3 linked regions of the Homo sapiens genome follow. The protein of the gene in region 2 purifies or fractionates together with the protein of the main gene of each other region. This does not show direct contact. Each region holds a gene or a part of one and is shown on either strand. Other genes may lie near its edges.

Region 1 (3,301 bases), on a different chromosome or scaffold from region 2:
GACATTTAATTTCTCTCTCACTAGGGAAGAACTGCAGACACTACCCATGATGTCTATAACTCAGAAATTTGAATATATTCTCAATAAGCTTAAATTTTCTTAAGAAGGGATTGAGAGAGAGAGAGAGAGCTAATCACTCAATGTCTTTGGCAGAAATGGTGCTGTTTGTTTTATTTTTTCCTTGCATTTGTTCTTCCAGATCCCTTCTCCACGGCAAAGGAAGCTGATCTTTATGGACTACTTCACTCTGGGTATTGGGTTAAGATTAGGATCAAGGGGAGGCCTCCCAAGAGATCAGAGGGTGAGGGAGAGGCGTCAGTGTGTTCCCTCCTGTACCTGGGCCTTGGCAGTAATGGCTTCCCCTGATTGCTAGTCTCTGGGGGGTGCTTCACCAGTCCCCGTTGGTTCCCTTAACCCTGTCTACACCTTTGTAAATCACCTCTTCATTAAATGCTCTTCAGTTAAACCCTTAAAGTGTGCCAGGACCAGAAAGATATAATACTAATTTGTTCCAAAGAGATACCAAGCAAATGTTCACATTTATTAATACAGGTTATGTTTTTAAGAATGAACATAAAAACAGTGACATACTATTTTGTAAGTACATTAATGATATCATATTTTAATATATACAGACTAATAAACAATGACAGTAAATCTTCACTGATTTAGATAAAATGAATAGTCACTAAATTAATAAAACCAGTGCTAGCTTCTACTTACAATACAGTTATATTACTTTTATGTAAGTTATTCTATGGTATTTGGAAATAGTTTGCTCTTTTATTTTTTTATTTTTTATTTATTTTTATTTTTTGAGATGGAGTCTTGCTCTGTTGCCCAGGCTGGAGCACAGTGGCGCGATCTCGGCTCACTACAAGGTCCGCCTCCTGGGTTCACGCCAGTCTCCTGCCTCAGCCTCCCGAGTAGCTGGGACTACAGGTGCCTGCCACCACGCCCGGCTAATTTTTTTTGCATTTTTAGTAGAGACGGGTTTCACCGTGTTAGCCAGGATGGTCTCGATCTCCTGACCTCGTGATCCACCCGCCTCAGCCTCCCAAAGTGCTGGGATTACAGGCGTGAGCCACCGCGCCTGGCCTGCTCTTTTAAATAAACATTTGCCTTGCAACTTTCTATTTTGTTTAAAATGCTACCATTTTTTCGTAAGATAAGAGATATGTTTCAACCTAATTTCCAAATTACTTTGTGAATTCCATGAAGATTTTCTATACTTGATACTTAGGAGGTTAAAAAATGCTTTTAAAGTCTCATTAAGTCTTAAGTAAATGGAAATTATAGAATAATTTTCCTAGATTTCAATGTCAATTCTATTTTCTTCTGTTATTTCTAAGCAGACTGACATGATTGATTCTTAAAAGAAAACCTGATTTGAGCAATCTATTGAGCAAAACATTTGTAAATAAATAGTGCCCAATTAAATCAGACTTATTTTAAAAAATATATGTCCTGTACTGCATTGTTTTCATTAAGTTATAACCACAAGAAATAGTAACCCAAATGTTCAAACTTCTTTAGCTGACAGGCCTTGTTTGTGTGAAACATATTTATTACACATACATCACACTCTATGCATGATCTACTTTGCTCTTGAGGGCAGGTCTCTGTCTTATTCCACTCTGTACACTCAGCACCTATTGGAGTGGCCACAGCGCATAATGGGTGCTTCCATATCAGAACTGACATTTCAGAACAACTACTAGATGTGTTTACACCCAGTGGATGGGCATCCAGAAGTCCATGCCTTCTTTCGTTGTTTTTAAGATGGGTAGAGAAGTCTTTCATGGTCATTACCTCCTAGGATATCACATTCTGCTTTGCCAGTTTCTCATAAACATGATCAGTTCACAGCCAATCCCAGGAGGATGGAGCAAATGTAGTGGCCCCAGTCTCACTGCTGTGAGGCTCAGCAGGAAGGTTTCTGGCCAATCTGTGTCTGACATGGCCCTGGCATGTGTCTGCTGCCTGGAGTCCTCCATCGGGGGCGGACACATGCAGCTCTCAGGAATAGCCTACTCTGAAAGCCAGCCTACATTCACTAGAGGACTTATGCTCAGTTTTGGCTTATGTGTACAGTGTGTAAAATGTAAAAAATACTACCCATATCAAAACAGAGGCTTTTCATCTGTTTCCATAATTTTAGGAATTCAAACTTGGATATGTTTAAAATTGAAAACACTAGAACTTCTACGCACAGATAGTACTAAGTCTTACCTCTTAATAACTTAAACCTTGCCGTCAAACAATTTCAAAATACACTTATTTGCAAAAGTGGTACAAGCCCAAACTATGGAGTCTCTCACTGTTGATGAACACCATGAAATGTTCAGGGCTAAACTCTACCAACCTAGACTTTGCATATTAAATCAGGGAATCAGAGATTATTTTCATAATTGCTGGGGTGCGGGGAAAGAGTGTTTTAAAGTGCCTATTCTATACTGCACTGCAAATAATATATGTGTGTGCATACATCTACATATACACACATGTAAGTATGTATATGTCACCTAGCTATATCCAGAAGTGACATTCATTTATTACTGTAGCATTGGCAATATTCCCTTGGAATAACACCGTCATCTCGTCCTGTTATCTTTCTGGTAATTGACAAAAATACATGCTTGACAGCTCCCATAAAAAGCAGGTATGCAAGTCGTACATCTGTTGTTTTAGGAGGTGAATCAATAAAGTTTGGGTGGGGACTAATAGAATCCTCAGGTTATTCACTTTTATAAACTTTTCTTTTTAACCTCCCAGCAGTCCCTTTTCCTAAGTTAACAGCTTTTTGTATATGCTGTTATTCAGGTTACTAGAGCAGGTATCCATTTTACTTGCCATCAACTGCCCACTGCTGTTATAACTGCTGGGATCGGAACTTTCTTTGCAGCATAAGATACTGTAGACGTACCTCTGGCACTCAGAGGAAGCGTAATAGTAAATTAGGGGGTCGATGCAGCAGCTTATGCTGCTGACACAGACACAGAGGAGGTAGGCAAAGTAGGCAGCCTCTGTGGTGGAAGTGTGAGAAAGGAATGAGTAATGCGCAATCAGGAGGACGTTTGTGGGTCCGAAGCAAATGATGAAGATGCAGAAAACAGCAGCTGACAGGAACAAAGCCCGGGACTTCTTGCTGCGGTTGGCAACTGCGGAAGAGCTAAGACATCGAATGATAGACACATAACAGACCGTGGAAATGATCAGCGGCACAAAAAAGAAGACAGCAGAGAAGGCTGAGAAGTAGTAGGCATAGTAGCCTTCGAGCAGGGTTTCATTGAGCACATCA
Region 2 (3,656 bases):
AACTCATTAGGAGTAGGAGATTATATTATCTTTTCCCCCCTTTTGACTGAATAAAATTGTCCCTTTTTTTTTTATTACCTATTCTGATGGTCTTCTTTCTGAGGCTCTAAGCCTTCTTCTGTTGTCATTTCCTTTCTGTTTAGAGAACTTCCTTTAGCCATTCTTTAACGATCAGTTTGCTTGCAACAGATTCTCTTAGCTTTCCTTTGTCCAAGAATGCCTGTATTTCCTCTTCATTCCTGAAGGATACCTTCACATTGTTTCAGAAGAGAAATCTACTGTCGTTTGAGTTGGTCTCCTCTCCGAGTTCATGCATTGCTCCTCTCTGGCTGCTTTGAAGAGTTTTATGTTTAGTTTTCAGAAGTTTCATTATGATTTGTCTTGGCACAGGCTTCATCCCATTTATTATATTTGGGGTTTGCTTGGCTTCTTGAATCTGTACATTTATGTCTCTTGCCAAATGTGGGAAGTTTTCAGCCATTATTTCTTGAATGACTATTTCAGTCCCTCTCTCTCATCTCCTTCTGGGACTCTGACATACGGCTGTTAGCACTTTTGTTAATGACCTCCGGGTCTCTGAGACCCTGTGGCCTTGTTGAGTGGGGTTGGAACATCAGCTCCCCTCTGGGCGTTGCTGATTCTAGGGAATGGGAGGGGGTAGCAAAGCGACAGCTAATCCAGCCTTCCCCCCTCCCACCCTCCCATCCCCTCTTTCTGCCTCGTGGTGGGGGTGCACTTCCCCACTGGGCCCTGCTGACACCACCCTGGTGAGGGAATTGGAGCACCTCCTGCTTCTTCCAGGCAGAGAATGGGAGGTGAGATCCCTGCTTGGCCCTGCCAGCACTATTTGACATGCCACTTGGAGCATGTCACCTGGTTCCTTGAGGGTAGAAGATCAATTTCCCCCTCAATTCCACTGAAACCTCAGTGGGTGGTATATGTGGTTTCTCTGCTGATGTTTTCTCTTGTATTTGTTTTTTGTTGTTGTTGAGATGGAGTTTCGCTCTTGTTGCCCGGGCTGGAGTGCAGTGGCGCAATCCTGGCTCACTGCAACCTCCGCCACCCAGGTTCAAGCGATTCTCCTGCCTCAGCCTCCCAAGTAGCTGGGACTACAGGCACGCACCACCATGCCCAGCTAATTTTTGTATTTTTAGTAGAAATGGGACTTCACCATGTTGGCCAGGCTGGTCTCGAACTCCTGACCTCAGGTGATCCACCCGCCTCGGCCTCCCAAAGTGCTGGGATTACAGGTGTGGGCCACCGCACCTGGCCTTCTCTTGTTATTTGGAATAGGACGGGCATTGCCAAAAAGGTCTGCTGTTGTAAGAGCATCCTTTTCTGGGTCCTTTGGCCAAGAACAGGCTCTTCTTGGAGTTCTTTTTCTCTGTACCTTTTGGCTGTTCCAGCTTGGAGGCTTCTGCAGCGCCCATCCTGGGTAAGTAGGAGGCAGTAAGGACACCCAGAGAACTCACTGCCTTGTCATCCCTCAAGTCCTGAGGTCGCTGGGTAGCCTGCCGCCTTCTTTCCACCTGCTTTCTGCACTTGCTGGTTGTGTTACATTCAGAACTTTCTTTTTAGCTGTAAGGGGGCAGACCTGGGAGGAGTAGAGCTGTTACTTTGTGGAAGTCTCCATCATCCTGGTCTTTTTACTCAGTGTCTGGGGCTTTTCCATCTTGATCACAGTTGTGCCTGAATTTGCACATAGGATTTCTGTTAGATAGTGCGAGGACTTCATTACCTCACTCTATCCTCTGCAGTTCATTATTTGAATCTACTAGTTGCTTTGATTTTTTTGTAAAGATTGCCAGTAAGACTTTCTAGTTTATTCTTTTTTTCTTAAACAATAATCAAGTTTATTAAACAAATTTTTTTAAGTATTATAAAATGTTTAACTTTCATCAGCTTCAAGGTTTATGCTGCTCCCAAATTTTGCATACAACTGAACTTTCAAATCTGCTCACACCCACTGAATTGCTTCGACTTTGGATTCTAAGGCGTCAGTTGCTTCTTGCAAATTTTTATTTGCTGCTTCTAACATTTCCTGTGTTTCTTCTTGAGAATGGCTAATGAAGACATCACCGATTTGATAAGGCATCATTAAGCAGTCAGCATCTGCAAGCATGGTACCGTCACGAGCATCTTCTACGTTTTGGAGTTGTTTCTGTTTTACTTCTATTTCTTCCTTCAGCTCTGTGATTCTACTTGTATTCCATGCAAATTTGTTTATCTTTTGTTGCTCTTCGAAAGTAACATTGACATCTTCTGCAGCCGTCTTCTTCATGGTGGCCACCATCTCGGGACTGGAGAACAGCATGAGACAATGGGACTTTGCCCCCAAGCGCGCTCTTGCTCCCTGTCGGCCCAGAATTCCCTGGCAAATACAACCCTGTCTCCACATTCCCTCCCCTTGGACCCATGGCCAATGATCCCTAAAAGCTGGGACACAGGGAGGAAATGTCACCTGGAAGGACTTGGTACATGCCAGTTAAAGGGACCGGCAACCCCCGTGGGCCAACATCAATGGGGGTGTGGGGAACAGCCTAGTTTATTCTTTTTATTTTTCTAATTCTACAGATGATATCTCGTCACTTCCTGACTGGGCTGTCCTTAAAGTTTGTGTATTTGGTGTTCCCGAAGTTGTGTAATAATGCCTCTGGTGGTGGGGTGTGCCTCAGGCTGTTGGAAGACATCAGGCCAGCTTAGATTTATCTCACAGTGCTTCCATTCCCTGACTTATGTGTGATGCGTTAAATCCCAAGAGCGTTTTCATTACTAAATTTCACATCCAGTTAGAAGTGGATAAAATGTTAGCTGTCTGAAGGTTCCTTGTTATATAGACTAGAAGTCCTAACCATCCACATGATTGCATTAGTGTAGCCTTTAGCCACCCCAAGGTAGACTTGTCTTATATGCAGATGTATAGTCACGCATCGCAATGTATAGTCATGCATCGCGATGCATAGTCACGCATTGCTTAACGACTGGGATCCCGTCCAGGAAATGCATCGTTAGGTGAGGTTCTTACGCAAACATCCTAGAGTGGACCTACACAAACCTAGATAATATAGCTGACCGTATACCTAGGCCTATTGCTCCCAGACTGCAAACCTGTACCGCATGTTACTATACTGAATACTGTGGGCCATTGTAGCACAATGGCAAGCATTTATGTATCTAAACATAGAAAACGTGCTGTAAAAATCTGGTGTTATAACCTTATGGGACCACCATCGTATATGTGGTTCATCTTTTACCAAAACATCATTATGCAGTGCGTGACTGTTTGGCTGATTTTAGAAACTTTTTGAAGAATTAGATGATTAGAGTGGGTGGTCTCTTGTTGCCACTGAAACAAAAAGATCAAGTTCAACAAAATCTCCACGGCATTGTGCTAGGTGCTGATGCAGAAGGGATATTCAGTGCATATTGCAGAGCCCCTACTCTCCACTCGCACTCTCAAGCTGGGGAGACAGTTGCACAAGTAACTTTAACATACAGCGTGAATGGATACCATGGTAAATGCCACTGGAGAGGTGTTGCAGGAGGCCAGTGGGAAGATTAATTCTGGCTGAGGTATCTAAAAAAGCCTTATTGAATTGTGATTTGAGCTGGCCTTTGAAGGTTTTGTAGGATTTCAGCAAGTGGAGAAGAATACA
Region 3 (3,656 bases), on a different chromosome or scaffold from region 2:
GGTGTCAATTTCTGAATTATGAAATATTTTAAAACATGAGAAATTATCATCCTCTCACTTCTTAAGACTTATTTAAATACTAAGTATGGCATAGGTTTTCATTTGGAAATTTTCTATTTTCTTCCCTTACATAAAAAACTTGTCAAAGTTTAACACAGCTGTCTTTTAAAAAAAAATTATCAAGATGAGGTATTCTAAATACAATGCTTTGAATTTTGAAAATAGTTTCCTTGGCACCAAATTCTAATATGTAGTAAAAGGAAAGAGAACTCAAACTTAATCAAGTTACTTTTTTCCCAGTATCTATATTATTAACATAAAATTTGGCTTGACTTACATTTTAGCCTATGCATAACAAAATCATAATGCTTTAACTGAACTGAAGAGAACTTTTGGGAAACCTGCAAATATTGAGGCATACAGAAAAATACAACTGAAAAGGGAGATTAGGATTTCAGATTTTTATACCATAAGATGTTTCCTCTGTTAATGAAAAAGGCAAATAACATATAGATGCATTCAATATATAGTTCTAAAATGTTAAAGCTAGGAGAAAAAAAGCCACAAGAATAAAATGTTGGGTTTTTTTATTGTTGTTTCTTTGTTTTTGCCTTTCAGAGTAATGCTGTTGAGCATCTCATAGGGCCGATTACATAGCAATTGTCCCACAGAGACTATTGTTTAAGGAAATTCAAATATTCTGTAGTCTTGGCTGGTGTCCCATAGAGGAGTACAGAAAAAGTTCTTAAGCCAACCATCTCTTCCACTACAAATAAAATATCAATTTGGATTTAATGTTTGAACATCCAAGAATTTTGTTCATGAAATAACTTCCAAAACTGGAAAGTAAAGTTCTTTAAAGTTCTATCTTAAAAAATATTTACAGATAACATGGGTTTATTATTAGGCAACATTGGAGAAACAAAATATTTTTAAGAAAATATCCCTTATGAGAAAAAAGTAAAGCTAAAGAGTATTTATGATACTGAAAATGTTCAGGCCCCATGCAAGAGTTGGCCACAGTAATCCAAAACATTTAGAAATATTTTCCAAATGTTACTATTAAAAAGGGAAGGAGGGGAGAAAAAAAAACCAATAAAAACAAAAACCTGGTCCTTAATCATGAACATCCCACTAGGCATTACAAAAGGATTAGATTAGTTCTATATCTAAACCAACTTCTTTAAAAAGTACAACTCATGGCTGGGCACTGTGGCTCATGCCTATAATCCCAGCACTTTGGGAGGCTGAAACAGCCAATCGCTTCAGTCCAGGAGTTCAAGACCCGCCTGGGCAATATGGGGAAACCCCGTCTCTACAAAAAAGCCAAAAATTAGCTGGGCATAGTGCAAGTCTGTAGTCCCATCTACTCAGGAGGCTGAAGTGGGAGGTTGCAGTGAGTCCAGGAGGTGGATGGAGCCCAGGAGGTGGAGGTTGCAGTGATTGAAAATCACGCCACTGAACTCCAACCTGGGCGACAGAGTGAGACTCTCAATCTCAAAAAAAGTACAGCTCAAAACAGCTTTCTAGAAATTAATAATTTAGCCCGGGTGTGGTGCCTTAAGCCTGTAATCCCAACACTTTGGGAGGCCAAGGCCAGTGGATTACTTGAGGTCAGGAGTTCGAGACCAGCCTGGACAACTTGGCGAAACTCCGTCTCTACTGAAAATACAAAAATCAGCCAGGTGTGATGGCGGGCACCTGTAATCCCAGCTACTCAGGAGGCTGAGGCAGGAGAATCACCTGAACTCGGGAGGTGGAGGTTGCAGTGAGCCAAGATATTACCACTGCACTCCAGCCTGGGCGACAAAGAGAGACTCCTTCTCAAAAAAAAAAAAAAAAAAAAAAAGCAATTCAGAATGTATAGTGTAATGATTGACAGCATGGGCTCTAAAGCCAATCTTCCCAGGTTCAATTCCCAGGTTCAATTTACTAGCTATGTGATCTGGACAAGTTACTTGACCTTTCTGTATCCCAGCTGCCCCTCTCAAAGGACAGAACCATCTCAGTGGGTTGTTGTGAGTATTAAATGAGTTTCCCCATGTAAAACCTTAGCACAGTGCCTGAAATTTGATGTGTCATATAATTACTGGTGGCAGGGGTGGGGGTAGAGCAATTCAGAAACCAATCACAATTAGAGCACAAAAATGTCTGCTGAGGCTGTACTGAAAAAACCAACAGAAATTCCTATCTAGGTGGTATCTAAACACATTGGAGAATTGTTTTTATATACAATTTTTCCCATCAGCCTTACTGTTCCAGAAATTCACATTTTCACTGATCTGAGCTGATCATCTATCCACAGTACCAGACTAGGCAAAAGGGCAAACCATTCTTTAAGATGTTACCTGGAACGGCAGACGTTATGGCCTAACAATGAAAGAGTGACTGAAGCCTGAATGAAATCATGGTTAAGTACACATTTAGCTAAAATACCAGCCCACAACATTATAGGCAAATTATGTTAGCCAGATTACAGTGAACTATGGAGATCCTCAGTAGTGGTCACTGATGGCCACTCACCCAGATTCAGCAGCAAAACACAGAAGAGGGGACAACAACACTGCCTGGTCCTTGGTTCTGGCACATCAGCTGTTACCACCCAGCACACCCTGGAGCCTGCTTCTTCCTGTCCGGCCCCCCGCAGTCACTGTCCCCCAAGATCATGTGTGGCAAGCGCCCACGGAGCCTAGCTAAGGCCATCACCAGTGGCTGATGTTGTGTTACTGTCAATGATAAAAGCTGTGAAAGCTCTGGAGGGTTTGAATAATTTTATCTAGCCTTGACCACTCTTTTAAGTGTATATATCCTATTCTCAATCCACTTTCTTATCACCGCCTATTCTCTGACTTTCTTTTCTCCCCTGTAGAAATTGCTTATCATGAAGTAAACATAAATAAGGTTTTTTGACTAGCTGCAAAACTCCAGTGGTGAACAGTACACACAGCATTTCTGATGTAATCCCTACTTATATAAACCAGGATGTTCCTGAGAGATTTAAGCCACAGTTGACTTTCTTCTCTCCTGTCAATGTCCTGAGCGTCCTTGGCCTACTCTGGACATACAATTTCTTAAGCGTAAGTACATTTCTCAGCATTTCCTTTGGCTCTAATTCCTTACATGTGGATAGACTGGTTTTGTATATAATCACTGTTTATTTCCTTAGTACATTTTCTATCTACTGCAAGTATGCTGCCAAATGGTTTAAAAAGTTTTACTTTGAAGCACAAGTCAATAGAAAAAGATGGGAGATACACAAAAAGTAAGAGACATGCTTCTTTTAAACAAAAGCTGAATGTGGTTTAACTCAAACTGAGTTTCGGAATTATACCAAAGCCAGTATGTAAAACCATGCTGACAAAACCACATGAAGCACTGTAAATAGCAGATTAATGAACCAACACAGCAAAGCAACATGTGCTTAGAAAAAGAATTCTGCAATCTGCTCTCTATTGTAGTAAAGTTGTAAGATAATATATTAAAGAAGTTACATTTTTCAAAATTTGGCTTGACCTTTTATTTAATCTGAACGATTCCATCATATTTTTTCTTTACCTAAAGAATATCTGAAATAATACTTTAAAAAACTATTTCATTCTCTCCTATATGCTGACAAGAAAGAAGAATGTTACCACGGTGACTTAAGTAATGTAAAG

What was found.
Region 1: the proteins of GNA12 (region 2) and F2R purify together in Homo sapiens (affinity purification with western blotting, with the first as the bait; one study listed by BioGRID). This does not show direct contact.
Region 3: the proteins of GNA12 (region 2) and ARHGEF28 purify together in Homo sapiens (affinity purification with western blotting, with the first as the bait; one study listed by BioGRID). This does not show direct contact.

Annotation. Positions count from the first base shown.
Region 1 is NC_000005.10:76,732,990-76,736,290, reverse strand, and holds the end of F2R (proteinase-activated receptor 1 isoform 1 precursor), read right to left. Parts: coding exon 2,788-3,301; 3' UTR 521-2,787; downstream 1-520. UniProt on the Homo sapiens protein: High affinity receptor that binds the activated thrombin, leading to calcium release from intracellular stores.
Region 2 is NC_000007.14:2,834,258-2,837,913, reverse strand, and holds part of GNA12 (guanine nucleotide-binding protein subunit alpha-12), read left to right. Parts: intron 1-3,656. UniProt on the Homo sapiens protein: Guanine nucleotide-binding proteins (G proteins) are involved as modulators or transducers in various transmembrane signaling systems. Activates effector molecule RhoA by binding and activating RhoGEFs (ARHGEF12/LARG).
Region 3 is NC_000005.10:73,912,585-73,916,240, reverse strand, and holds part of ARHGEF28 (rho guanine nucleotide exchange factor 28), read right to left. Parts: intron 1-3,656. UniProt on the Homo sapiens protein: Functions as a RHOA-specific guanine nucleotide exchange factor regulating signaling pathways downstream of integrins and growth factor receptors. Functions in axonal branching, synapse formation and dendritic morphogenesis.